Linked DNA regions of Homo sapiens. The protein of the gene in region 1 interacts with the protein of each later gene in a biochemical or structural test. Each region holds a gene or a part of one and is shown on either strand. Other genes may lie near its edges.

What was found.
Region 2: the proteins of FSTL1 (region 1) and DIP2A interact in a biophysical measurement, tested with the Homo sapiens proteins (one study listed by IntAct).
Region 3: the proteins of FSTL1 (region 1) and BMPR1A interact in a biophysical measurement, tested with the Homo sapiens proteins (one study listed by IntAct).

The regions. Positions count from the first base shown.
Region 1 is NC_000003.12:120,447,896-120,454,949, reverse strand, and holds the start of FSTL1 (follistatin-related protein 1 precursor), read left to right. Parts: upstream 1-3,957; 5' UTR 3,958-4,053; intron 4,054-4,203; coding exon 4,204-4,266; intron 4,267-4,295; exon of another isoform or gene 4,296-7,054.
Region 2 is NC_000021.9:46,461,817-46,468,928, forward strand, and holds part of DIP2A (disco-interacting protein 2 homolog A), read left to right. Parts: intron 1-654; exon of another isoform or gene 655-706; intron 707-895; exon of another isoform or gene 896-947; intron 948-1,249; exon of another isoform or gene 1,250-1,412; intron 1,413-7,112. UniProt on the Homo sapiens protein: Catalyzes the de novo synthesis of acetyl-CoA in vitro. Promotes acetylation of CTTN, possibly by providing the acetyl donor, ensuring correct dendritic spine morphology and synaptic transmission.
Region 3 is NC_000010.11:86,920,601-86,927,712, forward strand, and holds part of BMPR1A (bone morphogenetic protein receptor type-1A isoform 3 precursor), read left to right. Parts: intron 1-919; coding exon 920-1,095; intron 1,096-2,775; coding exon 2,776-2,906; intron 2,907-2,993; coding exon 2,994-3,119; 3' UTR 3,120-7,112. UniProt on the Homo sapiens protein: On ligand binding, forms a receptor complex consisting of two type II and two type I transmembrane serine/threonine kinases.

The DNA.
Region 1 (7,054 bases):
TAAAATGTGCATACACGAGAGTTTTTATGGTGCCACACTTTTATTGTTTTGGATAACAAAATAGCCTAATGATAAGACATTTCCAAATATCTCATTTCAAAATATTTTCTCCACTGCATAGTTTATTTTTGTCTTTTGCTTTATTTATTGTAGAGTTAACCATACGCCACAGCACAGTTTTATCATCAGTACCTGTAAGAGCTCTCTAGTGAATTATTTCCGTAGTAATACATCTTATTTATATGCTTACTGTGTACCAGACACTATTCTAAGTACTTTACATATTGATACATTTAATCTACACAATAGCTCTATGAAATCAGTACAATTATCACGATTTTACAGATGAGGCAACTGAGATGCAAGGGGTTAAGTAACTTGCCCAAGGTTACATAATAAGTAGTAAAGCTAAGATTTACTACCAAGGCAATTTTGTACCAAGGCAGTCTGTCTCATAAACCCATGCTTTTAATTGCTACAGTACACCACAAAGATTGCACTAGTCACATGCTAACACTGATATTGTCCAACTGTCTGATTTTTGCCACTGTGATGAGTGTAAAGTGACATTTATAATTTACTGTATAACTTTGGACAAACTACTTAAACTCTGTGTGTGTTTCTTCATCTGTATATTGGAGATAATAAAATAATACTGATTTCAAATGGTTGTTGTGCAATTTAAATAATAGTAGTGATGTTGAGTATCTTTTCTATATTTATTGTCCATTTGGGGTTCCCCTTTTGGGAATTGCCTATTCATACCTATTGCCCTTTTTTATTGGGTTTTCTTTTTCTGATTGATTTGCAGGGTGTGTGTATGTGTGTGTGTTATGAGTTACATGTCAGTTTTAGACATTTATATCTCCTTCTATCATTTTGTCTATGGTGCCCTCAGTTGAACAGGAATCTTTCATTTCATTTTGATATACTCAAATCCATTAATTGTGTTCCAAATGTAGAGAGGATAAAGATATGAAAAACATTGTTTTTGCTCTAAGCAACTTAAAACTAGCTGGAGAATCAAGAATAACTATGAGAACAAGTGTTAAACATTGTATAGCAGTCTGCAATATAATGCCCCAAGTTGTAAGGCTGTGTAGCCAACAGTATAAACTTGGGAAAGTATCTAAATCTTCCTGAGCTTCAGTTTTATTTGGAAAACGGAAGCAATAAAAAAGACCTTTCCATTTACTGTATTTTTTAAATTTTTATTTTTTATTGTTATTATTTTTTTGAGATGGAGTCTCTCTCTATTGCCCAGGCAGGAGTGCAGTGGCACAATCTCGGCTCACTGCAACTTCTGCCTCCCGGGTTCAAGCAATTCTGGTGCCTCAGCCTCCCAAGTAGCTGGCACCACAGGTGCCCACCACCATACCCATCTAATTTTTGTATTTTTAGTGGAGACGGGGTTTAATCATGTTGGCTAAGCTGGTCTCGAACTCCCGGCCTCAAGTGATCCGCCTGCCTTGGCCTCCCAAAGTGCTGGGATTACAAGGCATGGGCCACCGTGCCCAGCCTCCTTTCTATCTATTGTGAAAATTAAATAAAATAAGAGATGTTGAATGGCTTTCATAGTACCTGGTGTATAGTACCAACTACAATTTAGATGCAAAGCCGATCATGAAATAATAATGGCTATCACATACAGAGGTCTACTACCTGCCAGGCACTTTTTATATGCATCTGCTTAAATTTCACAACTCCCTGCAAGGCATTATCACTGCCATTTGTCAGAGGCAGAAACCTAGGTTCAGAGGGCTTATTATTTGATGCAAGTCAGGCCATGCAGCTAGTAAATGGCAGTGATAGGATGGAAAGCCAGATTGGTTTGACCTCAAACCTCCTGTGCCTTCTACCATGCCAAGCTGTTGTCAGAAAAGATATGAAGGAAGCAAACTTGACGTGGTTCCTGAAAACAAAACAAACAAACAAACCCAAGCATTTTAGTAGATAAGAGGAAGGGAGGAAAGATGATACCAGATTCTGAGAGGGTGCAGTGGATCTGCAAGGGATGCAATGTATTGTGCGTTATTCGAGGGCAGAACTTTATCCACAATAGTTCCCTTCAATCCTTGCACAGTGACCAAGACAGAGTATCTGGTGCGGAACATCTATTCCCTAATCTTATTACCATAACAAGGGAGCAGGAGTAAGTTGTCTGACTGGAGAGTTTGAAAGAACTGGGGATGTGTCACTCTACCCCCTCAAGTTTGGGGAGCAGGCATGTCCCAGGAGGCACATATTTTCTGCTTTTCCATGCAGTTTAGTTTTTACACAGGCAGGTTTTCCAGCTCTGCTTGTGACTGAGTGGACATGTTCAATTCTGGGCCCGCTGTCCCTGCAGATCTAAAGCCATGGCTGCCATTCCAGCCTTTAGCAGAGACAAAGCTGACATTTTGCTCTCCATAAGTCTGACTCCTGTTGCTATCTCAGTGGATTCTGAACTTACATGGGGACCATGGGTATTATCTTGAAGCCCCCTAAAGCCACAACAGTGGGCACTCAACAAACCTTGGCAGCAGAGTGAGTATGACAAGTTCAGAGGACAACGAGGAGATGGGCCTGCTTTGAGCGGAGGAAGTATGCTGATGTAGTTGAAGAGAAGTTAGATGGACAGGGTGGGCCCAGTAATGCAGGGCTTATAAGAAAGGCAGAGTTTGGATTTGATGTGGGTAGAAGAACGCTGAAGTTTCTGAGTAGAGGAAGAACATGAACACGAGGAAGACAATGTTTAAAATAAGGGAAAGAATATGACAATGGATTGCAGTGGAGACTACAGGGGAGAGCCTGGAGTCAGAGGACAACGAAAGGAGGTTTCCAGAATTTCTGAGTGAGGGAGGATGAAGGTCTGGCCTAGGAAAGTGGACATGTGAACGGAGGCGAGGGGATGCATATGAGATCTCAGCGGCTAAACTGCCAGGCTATGGGTACAAGCCGGCTCTGAGAAAAGGAGATAGGTTTGAAGGCAACCACCCTGAAAGAGGTAGATAAGCAGGCCCTGAAGCTGGGGGAAGTGAGGCTTAGTCTTGGGCATGTGAAATCTGAGTTGCTAAGTGGATCTGCTCTCCTTACTAGTTATGGCAGGAAAGGCGCCTTAATTAGGAGCATTTTAGGGAGTTAACCCTGTCAAAGAGGTAGCACACTTTCGAAGGCCAAGGGCTGGGAAGAAGGTGGTGAAGATGGCAATCCTGAACACAGAGGCTACTTGGGATGACAGGGATGGGAGGAGGGACACAGGTGATGAGTGAGTGGGCGGAAGAGAGGAGGGGGACACCGCTCCCCGGCCCGAGGGAAGGAGGGGATGAGGCTGCCGGCAAACGCTGGACTCAGGATCTTCCCAGCAGAGCAGGGCGGCCGCCACCTCACCCGGGACAATGCACTGTAGAACCCACAGCAGCCTTCCCCACGCCGGCCGGTCTTCCCGGCCCTGCGCCCACTTCCCGGTGCCCCGCTGCCCTGCTGCCGTGACCCCGGGATGCGGGGTCTCCTCTGCCTCCCTGGGCCTCCCCCTTCAGCCATGGGGGGCGGCTCCGCTTCCTAGGCCGCGGGACGTCTTTTCCTCCAGGTTCCAGTCCCGGACCTTCCCGGGCCCCCCACGGCACCGCCCACCTGGCCACCGCCGCAGCCCGCCCGGGCCGCCGCCAGCCAGCAGCCCCTCCCGGGGTGGGGTTTCCCTTCCCCCTACCCCTTTGTGGCAGGGACCCACGGGACACCCCCTCTGCCTCCGCTCCACGTCCAGGGGGCCGAAGGGGCGCCGGACGAGGGACCGTGCGGAGAGAGGGGTTCGGCGGCGCCAGGACTCCCGCGGGCTCCCCGGAGCAGGGGTCGGAAGGAGGGGGAGCGGGAGCCGCGGGGGCCGCTGCAGCAGAAGGGGGAGGAGAATGGGGAGGAGCTGGGGGGGCAGGCAGGCGGGGAAGGAGAGGTCTTAAGGGGCGGCGAGGGGAGGTCGCATTTCCTCCGAGGCTGGCGATCGGCGGAGCTCCCACCTCCGCTTACAGCTCGCTGCCGCCGTCCTGCCCCGCGCCCCCAGGAGACCTGGACCAGACCACGGTGAGCGCAGGGCGCACGGCGCGGAGGCCGGACTCTTCGGGCGGCCGGGGGTGCTTGGGCGGCCGGAGCGAGCCTGCGGGACCCGAGCAAGTTTCCCAGGTCAGCGCGGGGCCCGGCGCCTTCAGACTCGCTCTCTTCTCTCTTCCGCAGATGTGGAAACGCTGGCTCGCGCTCGCGCTCGCGCTGGTGGCGGTCGCCTGGGTCCGCGCCGAGGTAGGCGAGGGGCCGAGGAGTCCGAACTCGGTCCCCGGGGCCTCTTGGGTCTGCGCGCTGGGCGGGTGGGCGCGCGTCCTGGGGATGCTCTCCCGGGGTGGCGCTGGGAGTTTCGGTCCTTGGGGTGTGCTGGGGTGGAGCTGGGGCAGTAATGCTGCTTACGAAACTTAAATCTTTAAAGCAGGAAAAGTAGTTCGGGCCGTAAGCGGGAGCCCCGCCGCGGCTAACATGGAGGGAGAGCGGGGAGGAGGAGAGGGGACGGGCTGGGCCGACGGGGACGAGGCGGCGACTGGAGCAGCAGCGAGTTCAAAAAGGCGCCTCAGTTCCGTCCTTCACTTCAGAGGAGACTGAGAGTAGTTGGGGACTTTTCCCTCCCAAGTCTGTCTCCTGGGGGCGGGGGCAGAGGAATCGGGATTCTTCTTTTGGGGCAAAATTAATTTTCCTTTCTCTCTTTTAAAGTGAGATCATGATTCTCTGAAATGTATTTTCTTCTTTGTGAAGTGTCCTCGGGTTTTGTGTTATCATCTGGGCAATGTAACGGCCTTTTCCCAAGTGTTCCCTGTAACGTTGCGCAAGTGTAAGAGAAGATCCATTGCTCTGCTCTTTGGGGGCTCGAGTTTCCAGTTAAAGCATTTCAGCGCTTGTTTTTTTGTACCAATTTTTTCAACTCTAACGACCTTCCTGAGACACTACAAACAAACCAACAAACTCTTTGCTCAGAAGCCGCTCCATTAACTCAAAGGTTTATGGACAGAAAATAAACAATTCTAAATTCCCCGGGCTCCAGTCTCCAGGAAAGTGAGGTCAGAAACTAAACATTTGATAATTATGGCAGGAAATATGGAAGGAATTAAAAAGCATGAGGGAGAAGAAATGGAATGCACATTACAAAAGAAATAGCTCCCTGGTGGGTGGTTTATGCTCCCTGTTTGAATTTTTTCCTTCATATTACAGTTTAACCACACCCTTAGCATCGCAGCTTGACTCTGCCCAAAAAAGTCATAAATGCATACAAGGTCTTCACAATTTTTAAAAAATACGCATTGTACTGAATTCTCATTTAATTCACTACTACGTTGTTGATTGAGGTGGAAACTCAATCAACTGTTTTTACTGCCAATGAAATAAAAGTAGCTAATATTTATTAAATATCTGCTATGTTGTAATAAAATTCCATTTTAATGACAGATAAATTGAGTCAGCGAAGGTTACCCAATGCTCTCAGCTATTAAATGCTAAGGGTGGGATTTGAACCCAAACAGTCTGGCTCCGGACCCAAGGCTCTTGACCATTAACCCACACCACTTCCAAGCACAATGGTTTAACATTTACCAAGTACATTTTTGTTTACCACACACTGGGCTGTGTACGTTACCTGCAGTTACTTCTTTTAAAGCTCCCAAACCCTGTAATGTAGGTTTTATTATCCCGATTTTACAGAGGAAGAAACAGGTTTAAGGAGATTAGGTAACTTGCCCAGGGTCATACAACTAGTTAGCTCTGAAGCAGGATCTGAACCTACCTCTCTTACCTTTGGAGCCCATCTTGAACTCCAGGTCTGCTTCTTATCCATCTGGTTTTCCAGGGTTTGCATTTGAGAGCGTATCCCCCTTCACTGGCTGATGTAGCCCTGGTTAAGAAACATTTCTCCATCCCCTGCTGTGGCCCTCAAAAGGCAGTTGCAGACCAGTGATGGATGAGGTGAATCCCTGGTTGGTTTTCCAGCAGGCTCAAGAATTGCCAGCCAGTGTGTGAAATCACTCAGTGAACTGGAATGCAAATATGAGGTGTGAGGAGGCTGTTGGTTGACTTACCAGGCTGTGTGGCCCAAGGTCTGGAATCTATTCTAGGCGGCCTGCAAGACACACACCCCTCCCAACCCCCTTCCACACAGGGAAAACTTATCCCTGGTAGGAAGTTCCCCCAGCAGCAATTTCCTGCTGGAGGTAGAAGAGCATCCAGTGCTCTCACATAATTCCCAGGCAAACTACAGGGAAGAAGGCAAAATAGAGAAGTACTGAGATGTGAAAACAGAGTGCGTTGGGGGAGAAAAGAGGCTGTGAACTCACAGTGTATGGAAATGGTTACAATGAAAAGAGTGAGGGGTAGGTATGAGCTAGGTTACATTTCATGGCTCCAGGTTATTAAGGATTATTATCTTTTAATTATTCCAACCTCCTGGTGCCTGGCCAAGTAAGATTTGGCAAGTTTTTAATCCATTTAATAATAATATACCTTTAACAATTGATGAAGAGGTACATTAACCCTCTCCCTATGGGAATTGTAATTTGGATTTTTTAAAAGCCTTTTATCTTGTAGTTAATGGTGCTTGCTGTTTAAATTTCTTCCTTGTTAACTCTAAGGACAGTCTGCAAAAATGGTCACATCATGATATTTACAGTCCTTAGTGACAATCTATTTTAGTAAACTTCAAATCGCTAAAATTGTACAAATATTGTTGAACTTTTTAGAAATGAAATTTAGAAAATAAATTGAGGCTTCTTGGTGCTTTCTGCTTTTCTGCGACCATAAATATTTAATTCAGCATATTTTTAAACAATTTAATCACTTTACAAATCATGTTGATATTTGAAGAAGCCAGAGCCTCTGTAGTAAACCAGAATCAGAGGTGCTCTCCACTTGGGAAAAGGTGATTGTCATCAGTATTAATGCCAGTCTATGTCAATCCCATTTGGTTAGATTCACAAAGCTATTAACAAAAGTCATAAAGGAGCCTGGGCTCAGTGGCTCATGCCTGTAATCCCAGCACTTTGGGAGGCCAAGACGG
Region 2 (7,112 bases), on another chromosome or scaffold:
TGGGAGGCCCAGGCAGGAGGATCACTTGAGCCCAGGAGTTTGAGACCAGCCTAGGCAACATAGGGAGACCCTGCCTCTTCCAAAAAAAAAAAAAAATTGGCTGGGCATGGTGGTGTGTGCCTGTAGTCCCAGCTACTTGAGGGGCCGAGGTGGGAGGATCACCTGACGAGGTTGTGAGCCTTTATAGTGTCACTGCATTCCAGCCTGGGAGACAGAGTGGGACCTTGTCTCAAAAAAAAGTGTTAAAGGGAAGACAGCAGAGAACAGAGTAGTAGAGTGGCAGCCAAGGAGGTGGAAGCTCTGGCTTCTTGGCTTCTTTCCCTGCTCCTAGACTGGCCTGACACTTTTCTTTTGGCCAAAATAGGTCAGTGATTACTTAGGCACAGTCACACGTGGACCTGCTTCCAGGGCGCTTCCACAGGTTAATGCTGGCTTATGTAGTTTATGTGGTGGTTGTTGTTGACGTGGGCTCTCCCTGTTGGATTTGGAGATGCTTACTGGTAAGGACTTTGTTTTAGGCAGATTTTTGGCTTCTTCACACAGTGGTGGGCATCTGGTAAAGTGTCTGTGAATCTCCTGTGGATTACAATGTCTCTAAACGTGGGTTTAGTTAGCTGTAAAAGGGGGTGAATACCAGCTTTATTGACATTCCAGGTTTATTGTCAAGATTCAGTCACATAGTGTGTGTGAAAATGCTTCGAAACTGGTAAGGTGTTTTATTTATATAATTAAAGGGAGATATTAGTAATGAGTTATAGTCCTAAAACAACCAACATTAGTGTTTCATTGTTATAATTTTTATATATTGTCAAAATAGTGTAACTTTTTTATAGCATTCACATTTATCTAAGTGAGAAATTGCCTAAAACTTAAGAGTTGTCACTGTGCTTGGTAGGTTGGAAGAAGAAGCTTAACAGTGACAAAGATGCTGTCTTCAACAGAAACTGGTAATGAGTGATACCTGAATAATCTAGAAAATCCTGCATGCCTTCCCCTCAGCCTGTTGAAAGTATCCTCTGCCTTTCTTCATACCTCACACCTGGCCTTATTCTCCAGCATCCTCACTGCATTCTCATCATCAACCATAGTGATTGGCGTTGGCCCTGAGGGAAGGTTCTGGTAGAATGCTATGATTTATTTCCATAGGGCAAGTTTGCTGAATTTCTGTTATAGATTCCCAAGAGGGAAATAAGGCATAGCTGTGTTCTTGCTCCTTAACTTTTCTGGCTGTTTTGCCCTCTTGACTTAGGAGTCTGCTTCAGATTAAGATGAAGATGAAGAGTAGAAGTACATGGAACCCCACTCTTCTTAGACCCCCTGCCCCCCAATCATGAACACATACAGAAGAATTCATATGTGTGGTTCCTGAAAACCTATCAGGATGTTCATTGATGGAAGTGAGATCATTAGAGGTATAACCTTGATATTTAAAAAAGAATTAATTCCCAAACCTTTGTGCTTTGCCTGTTGCTGTAACAAATTACCTTGGACACACCTCACAGCTGATTTTGGCACACCAGTGCTGTACGTGTCTTGGAGCTATTGCTGCTGAACTGCTTTAAAAACATGGACAGTGGTATTTTGTTCTTTGTTTTAATAGACTACAGTGGGTTAGAGAGGAAATTCCTACACAATAGGCTACCTTTATCCCATTCCAATTACTTTATTCTGGTTAATAGGTCTATTCCATAGCTTTAACTTTAGTCTTTTTCTTGATTTCTTATATTCTAACAATGCAGGACTTCTAGTCTAGATGGAATAAAATGAAAAGGGGGAAAAAACTCTGGGTATACAGGAAGAGACTTCTCTCACAAAGCTTTTTTCCTCTTTAACTGTCTTTAATTTCTAAAATCTGGGATATATTTGTGTGTGTGTGTGTGTGTGTGTGTGTGTGTGTGTGTGTATATTTTGAGACGGAGTCTCACTCTGTTGCCCAGTCTGGAGTTCAGTGGCGCGATCTCGGCTCACTGCAGCCTCCACCTCCCGGGTTCAAGCAATTGTCCTGTCTTAGCCTCCTGAGTAGCTGGGATTACAGGCACACGCCATCACGCCTGGCTAGTTTTTTGTATCTTTAGTAGAGACAGGATTTCACCATATTGGCCAGGCTGGTCTTGAACTCCTGACCTCGTGATCCACCTGCCTCGGCCTCCCAAAGTGCTGGGATTACAGGCATGAGCCATCGCGCCTGGCCCATAATTCTTAATTTTCAAAATGACAGCCTGTCATTGCCTTTGTGTTAATAAACATTTGTTGTGCTTCTTGAATATTTTGTGGTATATAAAAGTTCTCATGTTCAGCCAGGCGCAGTGGCTCACACCTGTAATCCCAGCACTTTGGGAGGCTGAGGCGGGTGGATCACCTGAGGTTAGGAGTTCCAGACCAGCCTGACCAACATGGTGAAACCCCATCTCTACTAAATACAAAAAATTAGCCGGGCGTGGTGGCGTATGCCTGTAATCCCAGCTACTTGGGAGGCTGAGGCAGGAGAACCACTTGAACCTGGGAGGCAGAGGTTGCAGTGAGCCGAGATTGCACCATTGCACTCCAGCCTGGGCAACAAGAGCGAAACTTCGTCTCAAAAAAAGAAAAACGTTCTCATGTTCAGATTCTACTCATCTGTCAAAGGCCACCCCAAATGCTCTCTATCTTAGTCTATTTTGTGTTGTGTTTGTGTTCTATAACAGAACACCACATATAGGTAATTTACAAAGAAAAATTTATTTCTCACAGTTCCAGAGGATGGAAGTCCAATATTAAGGTACTAGCATCTAGCAAGGACTTTCTTGGCCTGTCATCCCATGGTGGAAGGTGAGAAGGCAAGAGAATGTGTGGACGAGAGAGGAAGGGGGCCAAAATCATCCTTTTGTCTGGAACGCATTCCTGATAACTAACCTGTCCCTGCGATAACAGCATTAATCCACTGATCATCTCTTAAAGGTTCTGCCGCTCAACACTGCTGCATTGGGCACTGAGTTTCTTCCTTTTTCTTAATATTCATGTCTTTTTTTTTTTTTTTTTTTTTTTTTTTCAAGAAAACACACAACAAATGTCAGAATATGAGATAGGGAAGTTCTCCTGGAACAGCATGTAGATTATTTTCTAGAGCACTTTAGTTAAATGGTACTTAATGATGATAATTCTTCTGAACACAATTCAGAATTTGAACCAATATTTGTTGTTTCAGGAAAGCAGAATTTCCTTTGAATGATGGATAAGAATGGTGAGGATCTTTATAATATAGAATAAATTGCTGAAAAGAAACTTTGAGGGAATATTCAAAGCACCCTCTTATTTTGAACCTTCCTTGATCATCTCTAATGTGACTGCTTTCTCAGAACTTCCATATCATTTGTCCCCTCTTTTGGAGTTCTTGCTGCTTTTTGTTTTTGTATTTGTTTTCACTTATTCAGTAATTATTCAGTGTCCACTGCATCCTAGGTAATATTTCAGCTGTCAAAAGTCAGATTTTGGCTGGGCATGGTGGCTCACTCCTGTAATCCCAACACTTTGGGAGGCCGAGGTGGTTGGATCACCTGAGGTCTGGAGTTCGAGACCAGCCTGACCAACATGACAAAACCCCGTTGCTACTAAATATAACAAAAAAAAAATTAGCTGGTCATGGTGGCACGTGCCTGTAATCCCAGCTACGTGGGAGGCTGAGGCAGGAGAATCGCTCAAACCCAGGAGGCAGAGGGAGACTATTTTTATAATGATACTAAGATGCCATTTCTGTTTTCACTGTGTTGACACTTGTACTGATGGTCCAAAAGCAGTAATAGGGAAAACTGCTGGGCACTTTAACGTAAATTGAGGCAGGGACTCCAAGTGTCACTGATAGTCATTATATTATTCGCTACCTCTCCACTTGCAGTTTTAAAAAAACAAAAAGGGCTGCTTTCACTTAAACAGACCCTGATGAAGCAGTAAAAATTAAAAAAAAAAATTGGCCTTTTGTCTTTTCATGAGGAAATGGGAAGTACATGAATTGCTTTTGCTGCACAAAGAGGTACAGTGCCTGTTTTGAGAAACAGCAATTGTGTAGTTTGAGTTGCAAAGCGAACTAGCTGCTTTTATTGTGAAATGCCATTTTTGCTTGAAAAAGTGGGTAGCAGACAATCTGCAGTTATTGAGACTTGGGTATTTGGTGGACGTTTTCTGGAAAATAAATGAGAGGAAATAACTGACAATTTATGACCAATGATAATATTTGTGCTTTCAAGCAAAAATCAAAATTTTGAAAAAATTTATCTGCTACAGTGAGCTTGACAGTTTCTCAATAGTTAACGACTTCTTTGATGAGATTGGTGACAATATAATGAATGAGTATTTGATATTATATAATTAAATGTGTCAGCATTTGGAAGATCCACATAATTTTGTGAACTAATATTTTCCAGCTCACCATTGCACCACGTTACAAAGTCATAGTGCATGGGTAAAAGATTCATTCAAAAGATAGACCAATGGATTTTAATGTAGTGATATGAAAAGTTCACTGATAAGAGTTATAGATTCTACATTATAACTTTTTTTTTTTTTTTTTTTTTTTTGAGATGGAGTCTTGCTCTGTCTCCCAGGCTGGAGTGCAGTGGCGCGATCTCAGCTCACTGCAACCTCTGCCTCCCAGGTTGAAGTGATTCTCCTACCTCAGCCTCCTGAGTAGCTGGGATTACAGGTGCCTGCCACCATGCCTGGCTAATTTTTGTATTTTTAGTAGAGATTGGGTTTCACGTGTTGGTCAGGCTGGTCTCGAACTCCTGACCTCGTGATCCGCCCGCATTGATCTCCTAAAGTGCTGGGATTACAGGCCTGAGCCACCACTCCCGGCCACAACTTTTTTTTTTTAAGAGACTCCCCCTTGCCTGGTTTTGGTGTTGTATCAAGGAAGAATGTCCACAGTGATCTGAAAAGGCTGCTGAGACACCCCACCTTTTTCCAACTGCATGTCTCTCTGAAAAAGGATTTGATTCATAGACTTCAACCAAAAAAACCACACAGTACAACAGATTGGATACAGGAGCAGGTATGAGAATCCATATTGTCTTCTCTGAAGCCAGAGTTAAAGCAACTTGCAAAAATGTAAAAGAATACCTCTTCTTACTAAATGTTTTTGTTTTCAGAAATCTTTTATTTTTAGTAAAAAATATTATTTACCTTAATATCTAGTCAGTTTATTATTAAAAATTTTAAATGAGTTAGGCCGGGCGCGGTGGCTCACGCCTGTAATCCCAGCACTTTGGGAAGTCGAGGCGGGCGGATCACGAGGTCAGGAGGTCGAGACCATCCTGGCTAACACAGCGAAATCCTGTCTCTACTAAAAATACAAAAAATCAGCCGGGCGTGGTGGTGGGTGCCTGTAGTCCCAGCTGCTCGGGAGGCTGAGGCAGGAGAATGGCGTGAACCTGGGAGGCGGAGGTTGCAGTGAGCCGATATCGCACCGCTGCACTCCAGCCTGGGCTACAGAGCGAGACTCCGTCTCAAAAAAAAAAAAAAAAAAATTTAAATGAGTTAAATATTTAAAAAATTTCACAGTATTAGTTTTGTTTGTTTGTTTGTTTGTTTGTTTTTTAAGATAGTGTCTCGCTCTGTTGCCCAGTTGGGAGTGCAGTGGTGTGAGGATAGCTCACTGCTGCCTTTAACTCCTGGGTTCAAATGATCTTCTTGCCTCAGTCTCTTGAATAACTAGAACATAGTAGCTGAAAGACATGGATGTCATCATCTATTTCTTTATATTTTTTGTAACATTTTAAAGCTATTGCCTAGTTTAATAATTATTTCAGTTTGTGTATGTAAGGACAATCAGGCATTTAAATTTATAAAACATGTTTGAAAATCTTTAAAAGTTACACTTACTGACTAGTTGCTTGTCTGTTGCACTAACAAAATTTATTATTCATGTTTCGGGAATACCCTCTTTAGGTTTTGTTTGTTTTTTTTTTCATAGTAAATTATCCCAGTACAAGTGTCTTTGTACAAAATTTTGATTTCTAAGTTTCTTTAAAAATATCAATGCCAGCTGGGCCCAGTGGCTCACACCTATAATCCCAGCACTTTGGGAGGTCGAAGAGGATGGCTGAGGAGGTTGGATCGTTTGAACTCAGGAGTTTGGGATCAGCCTGAGTGACATGGTGAAACCCCATCTCTGCTAAAAAATATGAAAATTAGGGCTGGGTGCAGTGGCTCATGCCTGTAATCCCAGCAGTTTGGGAGGCCGAGGTAGACGGATCACTTGAGGCCAGGAGTTTGAGACCAGCCTGGGCAACATGGTGAAACTCCGCCTCTACTAAATAAAAAAAAAAATTAGCCTGGCATGGGGGCAAGTACCTATAATCCCAGCTACTCGGGAGACTGAGGCAGGAGAATCTCTTGAACCCAGGAGCCGGAGGCTGCAGTGAGCTGAGATTGTGCCACTGCACTCCAGCCTGGGTGACAGTGAGACTGTCTCAAAAAAAAAAAAAAAAAAAAGCTGGGTGTGGTGGTGCACGCCTATAATCCCAGCTACTCTGATGGCTGAGGCAGGGAGAACCGCTTGAACCTGGGAGGTGGAGGCTGCAGTGACCTGAAATTGCACCACTGCACTCCATGATACCCTGTCTAAAAAAAAAAAAAAAAGAGAGAAAATCGGCGCCAGAACAAATCCTACACAAGCCCACTTGTGTCAGAAATTTAAAATAGTCAGACTCATAGAAGCAGAGAGTAGAATGGTGGTTGCCAGAGACTGGGGTGGTGGGAGAATCTGGAAGGTGTTGATCAAAGGGTATATAGTTTCAGTTATACAGGATGAGTAACTGCTAGAGAGCTGCTGTACAGCATAGTGCATATAGTTAACAATACTGTATTGTATATTTAAAAATTTGTTAAGAGAGTAGAGCTCATGTTAAATGTTCTTATCACAAACAGGAAAGGAAGAAACTTTTAGAGATGATGTTTATGTTTATGTTTATGGTGATGGTTTCACAGGGATATACTTACCTTTAAATTCATCAAAATTTATATATTAAATATGCACGAGTTCTTATAGGTTAATCATGTCGATTTAAAAAAAGAAATATCAGTGATTTCAATTTTAATATCCTAAAACTTTAAACATGCTTCATTGCCAGCTATTCTGT
Region 3 (7,112 bases), on another chromosome or scaffold:
AGGAAAATACAACGCATTATATTGATCACTGCTTTAGAGTAATTATTACTAATTGTCAGTATGATCATGTAAACATTGCTAACAACAGAACTCTGTTGATGGGACCCATAAAGAAGAAAATGTAATCCTATGTCACAAAGCCTTAGTGTATCATATGAGAGTGGTAAAAGCAAGCGATTCCTCTTGTATTTTCATATTCACCACTTCTCAGACATAATTATCTACTACTTTATCTTTTTTTTTTCCTTTTCTTTTCTTTTTTTTTTTTTTTTTGAGAGAGATTCTCACTCTGTTGCCCAGGCTGGAGTGCAGTGGCATGGTCTCGGCTCACTGCAGTCTCCGCCTCCCAGGTTCAAGTAATTTTCGTGCTTCAGCCTCCCAAGTAGCTGGAATTATAGTCATGTGCCACCAACCCTGGTTAACTTTTGTATTTTATAGAGACAGTGTTTTACCATGTTGGCCAGGCTGATCTTGAACACCTGACCTCAGGTGATGCGCCCGCCTTGGCCTCCCAAAGTGCTGAGATTACAGGCATGAGCAACCGTGCCTGGCTTAACTTTATCTTATATTCAGTGTTGTCCTCTTTCTTAGACACCAGACTTATTTAGTGACAAAACCTGACCTGAACGGATGTGAGGTGTGTATTGCCCTTATCCAGTTGAGGAGGACTATCGGACTTAGTGTTTTGCTGTAGACACAGTACTGAGTACTGAGTTGGATTAAGAGTGCTGCCCCAACCCTGCTGAGGATGTCATGTAGTATGTAGCATGTATTTAAAGAAAAATCTGAAAAATGCTAAATTCCACAATGCATCTGGCCCCAAGGAGAAAAAGAAGCTTTTATAAAATAGGACAAAAATACAAGATAAACTATTTTATTTTTGGCCCTCAACTTGGACCTTGGCTTTCTTTTGTTTCAGTGACACAAATGAAGTTGATGTGCCCTTGAATACCAGGGTGGGCACCAAACGCTACATGGCTCCCGAAGTGCTGGACGAAAGCCTGAACAAAAACCACTTCCAGCCCTACATCATGGCTGACATCTACAGCTTCGGCCTAATCATTTGGGAGATGGCTCGTCGTTGTATCACAGGAGGTGGGAGTTTGAGTAGTTTCTGATTATGTTGATTTACTCATCATTTTAAAAATAACAGCTCCAGTTATATAACTTTTTAGTTTTTAATTTTTGTGGGCACATAGTAGGTGTATATATTATTGGATAAGGAGTTATTTTGATACAGGCATGCCATGTGTAATAATCACATCTTGGAGAATTGGATATCTGTCCCTTCAGACATTTATCCTTTGTTTCACCAACCAGTTATACTCCTTGAGTTATTTTTAAGTGTACAATTAAATTATTACTAACTGTAGTCCTCCCCGTTGTGCTATAAAATACCAAATACTTATTCATTCTTCTATTTTGTCTCTACTTATTAAACATCCCCCCCCATCTGCTGCTACCCTTCCCAACCTCTGGTAACCATCCTTCTGTTCTCCATGAGTTCAGTTGTTTTGATTTTTAGATCTCACAAGTAAGTGAGAACATGTGAAGTTTGTCTTTCTGTGCCTGGCTTATTTTACTTAACGTTATGACATCCAGTTCCTCCATGTTATTTCAGAAGGCAGAATCTCATTCTTTTTTCTGGCTGAATGATACTCCATTGTGTGTAGGTGCCACATTTTCTTGATGTGTTCATCTGTTGATGGTCACTTAGGTTGCTTCCACATCTTGGCTATTGTGAACAGTGCTGCAGCAAACATGAGGGTGCAGGTATCTCTTCGGTTAGCTGATTTCCTTTCTTTTGGGTATACACCTAGGAGTGCAATTGCTGGCAGTTACGTAATTTAGATGTCACATACGTCAGAGTCCCCAAGACCACCCCCAGGTTGTGCGATTTCACTTGAAGGACCACAGGACTCGGCATGTGGTTGTCCCAATGGCTAACATTTATCCCAGTGAAAGGATACAAATCAAAATCAGCCAAGTTTAGAAAACCAGGCGAGGCTTCCCAGAATCCTGTCCCAGCGGAGTCAGGGCGTGTGCTTCATTCCTCTTACTAGTTGTGACAACACATACAAAGTGTTCTCATTCGGGAAAGCTCCTTAGAGACTTGGCACCCAGAGATTTTACTGGAGGCTGGTCACATAGGCATCCTCTGCCTGGCATGTACCAGAATTCCAGCAGGAAAGCAGACGTGCAGTACACACCACATTGTTTGCACAAGCAGCCCAGGAGTGGTGAGTTACCCTCACCGTTTCCGGTAAGTTTTATATCCATGTAGGGAACTGTTTACCATTTGTGTACCCGGGCACTGGCCAAGGCCAAACCTTGCAAGCCGCCTTTCCTAAGGGAAGGTCTCAGGCCTGCTGTGTGAACCCTTATCTGCACCTCATAAGTCTTTCTACTGCAGAGCAAAATGAAACAAAATAATAAAAACTATTCATTAGTAGGAACAACCATATAAGTAAATAATTATACTTTAGGGTAAATGGCTGATTTCGCCTTGCTTATTTTTTTTAAGGAAGATTGATATGCCCTTTGTCGATGGACTCTATCACAGTTGTGATGACATCCCTGGTGGAGGTAGAGGAAATAGTTGGACATAAATAAGAGAAAAACATACATCTACTATTAAGAGTGAATCATAGTGTCTATATTTTTTCTTGTGTAAGAATCCGTTTTAGTTCCATAGTTTAGCAAAAGATGCTTACTAGATTGGTATATCTTGTCCAGCAACCATTTTTGTGCCCATGTTTTCTCATTCCCTTATAGGGATCGTGGAAGAATACCAATTGCCATATTACAACATGGTACCGAGTGATCCGTCATACGAAGATATGCGTGAGGTTGTGTGTGTCAAACGTTTGCGGCCAATTGTGTCTAATCGGTGGAACAGTGATGAAGTGAGTGGAACTCAGTCCCCTGAAGAAGTGATTCGTAAATGCCACCAAATATATTCTCTGCTCACTGAACATCTCTTTACTTTTCAGTGTCTACGAGCAGTTTTGAAGCTAATGTCAGAATGCTGGGCCCACAATCCAGCCTCCAGACTCACAGCATTGAGAATTAAGAAGACGCTTGCCAAGATGGTTGAATCCCAAGATGTAAAAATCTGATGGTTAAACCATCGGAGGAGAAACTCTAGACTGCAAGAACTGTTTTTACCCATGGCATGGGTGGAATTAGAGTGGAATAAGGATGTTAACTTGGTTCTCAGACTCTTTCTTCACTACGTGTTCACAGGCTGCTAATATTAAACCTTTCAGTACTCTTATTAGGATACAAGCTGGGAACTTCTAAACACTTCATTCTTTATATATGGACAGCTTTATTTTAAATGTGGTTTTTGATGCCTTTTTTTAAGTGGGTTTTTATGAACTGCATCAAGACTTCAATCCTGATTAGTGTCTCCAGTCAAGCTCTGGGTACTGAATTGCCTGTTCATAAAACGGTGCTTTCTGTGAAAGCCTTAAGAAGATAAATGAGCGCAGCAGAGATGGAGAAATAGACTTTGCCTTTTACCTGAGACTTTCAGTTCGTTTGTATTCTACCTTTGTAAAACAGCCTATAGATGATGATGTGTTTGGGATACTGCTTATTTTATGATAGTTTGTCCTGTGTCCTTAGTGATGTGTGTGTGTCTCCATGCACATGCACGCCGGGATTCCTCTGCTGCCATTTGAATTAGAAGAAAATAATTTATATGCATGCACAGGAAGATATTGGTGGCCGGTGGTTTTGTGCTTTAAAAATGCAATATCTGACCAAGATTCGCCAATCTCATACAAGCCATTTACTTTGCAAGTGAGATAGCTTCCCCACCAGCTTTATTTTTTAACATGAAAGCTGATGCCAAGGCCAAAAGAAGTTTAAAGCATCTGTAAATTTGGACTGTTTTCCTTCAACCACCATTTTTTTTGTGGTTATTATTTTTGTCACGGAAAGCATCCTCTCCAAAGTTGGAGCTTCTATTGCCATGAACCATGCTTACAAAGAAAGCACTTCTTATTGAAGTGAATTCCTGCATTTGATAGCAATGTAAGTGCCTATAACCATGTTCTATATTCTTTATTCTCAGTAACTTTTAAAAGGGAAGTTATTTATATTTTGTGTATAATGTGCTTTATTTGCAAATCACCCACTCCTTTACAACCATACTTTATATATGTACATACATTCATACTGTAGAAACCAGCTCATGTGTACCTCATATCCCATCCTTAAGAGAAGAAATGTTATAAAGTAGAACTAAATATAAATTTTCAGAATTAATGCATTCAAAGTAATATATCAAATCCAGGACTTTGTTAACTTCAGGTAAAAACTTCATTAGGGTAATATCATCTCAATTTTTTCAAATGAAAGGATTCTCTAATTAGAAATTTATATGTCAGAGCTGTTATAAATTTATCAACTGTCAAATATGTTCTGGACAGCTAAATCATTTGAGATTTTTGGTTTTTTGATTTCTATTCCCTAACTTGTGAAGACAATGAAAAATCAGGCAGAAATATTTAGTATCTAGTCAGTATCTGTAGCTACACTGTATAACTGTTCTTCAATAAAATGGTTCATATTTTATAGATGCCTTGTTATCTCAAGAAATCTGATTTACATAAACTTATACTTCTTTAATGCTTTTTAAATATTTATTCTGAGCAAACAATTCATGAGTACATCAAGTGAGATAGTTTTATTTGATTATAACATAAAATAAATGTGATTATATCACATCATCATCAAAAAGGTTTAAATTAAATGGGAGGAAATCAGCATATGTCCACCCATTACCAAAATTTGACTATCATTTAAGGTTAAAACTTACAAATTTGTCTGCACATCAAATTTCACAAATTTGAAAATTGCCTTAACCATTTTGATTAATAAGTTTCATCTGCCATAATTAAAGTCTGAAGTGTTCATCAAGATAAGTAAATTTGCATATGGATAATACCCAATAACTTGTTTTTTCAGAATTTTTCACCATATGTATACTGAGAAATACAAATATTTTAATCTGCGTTGCCGTATGATATGATTGCACTTAGAACACCCAATTTACTTAAATCTTGGTTTACTTTTGACTTGATACCATAATCTTTAAAATCATTTGTCATCTTTTTTTTTTTTTTTTTGAGACGGAGTCTCGCTCTGTCGCCCAGGCTGGACTGCGGACTGCAGTGGCGCAATCTCGGCTCACTGCAAGCTCCGCTTCCCGGGTTCACGCCATTCTCCTGCCTCAGCCTCCCGAGTAGCTGGGACTACAGGCGCCCGCCACCGCGCCCGGCTAATTTTTTGTATTTTTAGTAGAGACGGGGTTTCACCTTGTTAGCCAGGATGGTCTCAATCTCCTGACCTCATGATCCACCTGCCTCGGCCTCCCAAAGTTCATTTGTCATCTTAATAAAAATATAAAGACAGGCAAAGTTTATTGGAAATGTTCAAATGGTGTGTGGAAGCAAAAAATTACAGCCAGTATATGAGACCACTATTATGGTTTTTTAAAATTAACTTGGTCTAGTAAAAGTGATATCAAGAGTTAATCTTAGAAACTTGCTCAGTAAAAACATTTTCTAGTATAACATGTTCTTTAAAAAGCAAATGCTGCCGTCTTTGGAATCTTAATCTAAAAATGTGGCCGGGCGCGGTGGCTCACGCCTGTAATCCCAACACTTTGGGAGGCTGAGGCGGGTGGATCACAAGGTCAGGAGTTCAAGACCAGCCTGGCCAACATGGTGAAACCCCATCTCTACTAAAAATAAAAAACTCAGCCAGGCGTGGTGGCGGGTGCCTGTAATCCCAGCTACTCGGGAGGCTGAAGCAGGAGAATTGCTTAAAATCAGAAGGTGGAGGTTGCAGTGAGCTGAGATCGTGTCACTGCACTCCAGCCTGGGCAAAAGAGCGAAACTCCATCTCAAATAAACAAACAAATAAATAACAAAAAACAAAAATGTTGCATTAAACTTAGTTCTTGTCTCTCCTTTCCACTCTTATTCTTAAATCTGAAGCTCATCGACTAAGTGAAATATTTAAAGAATATGATAGGCCAGCAAGAAGAAGTATTATGTAGTACCATAGTTAGTAAATTCGTAAAACCTTGGAAGCCATTATTTGGTCCCACTTGCAATTTAGTGTTTTTGAAGTGTGTAGCTTCATTCAGATAGCTCTTTAAATAATTAAAATATAAAAGCAAACAACCCAAACTACCTGACTATAAACAGGAAAAGTTAACCCTCAAAGAGAGTTCTTGTGAATTCTCTTTATGCTGGCAAATAGCTCTAGGATTAAAGGCACATTAGGGTTTCCTTCAGTTTGTTTATTCTAAGCTTTTACTGTGCTTTTTACTGAACAAGTTTCTGATGTATAAAACTTGCATCTGATTTCTTTGGAAATATTTTCACAAAAGTTATTTTAATCAGTATTTTTACATTGCCTTTCCAGTGTCCAGAAGTGTTTCTAAACTTAGAAAGTGACCTATAGTTTTTTAAAATTATGTTTTCCTAGAACGTGCCAAATTTTGATTTACTCTAACAATCAGTACTTTTCTTCAGATGCTTTGTTCTGTTTAGAACAAAAATGCACTATAGTTTTTAAAGAATCATGCATCTTTGGGTTGGCCCAGGATCAAATTTGATATTGAATAATTTATTCCAGGGCAGCTTTCATAAACATACTTCATAGATGTTGTTTTGAAATGTTTCTAAATATCTAAAATCATTTCAACAGCAGAAATGATTTTTATTTTAACAAAAGATTATGATAGCCCTTGTAGTGTTTAAAAGTGGTCATATTTATTACTGACTTTGAGTCAGGTGTTAAAATAGCAGTGCCACAGCTCGTCTCTTGCCTTAGTGTGCTGCTGTGAGAGTCACAGTGGAAACTGCAGGGAGGAGGTGTGTTCCTAAGAACCAAAATCCAGCACAGCATCCTGTGAAGCCACGTGTAATGATGGTCCCATAAGGAAAGTATGTGAATATGGCTCTTGTAAAGGATTAACTATTGTAATTTTAGCTTATGCTCTGTATTCTGTTTTCTATGGAATTATTTAAGCCCTTTTAGTGACCTTTGTCCTGGCCCATTTAAAAACTAAAATGTAGTATATATTGTAT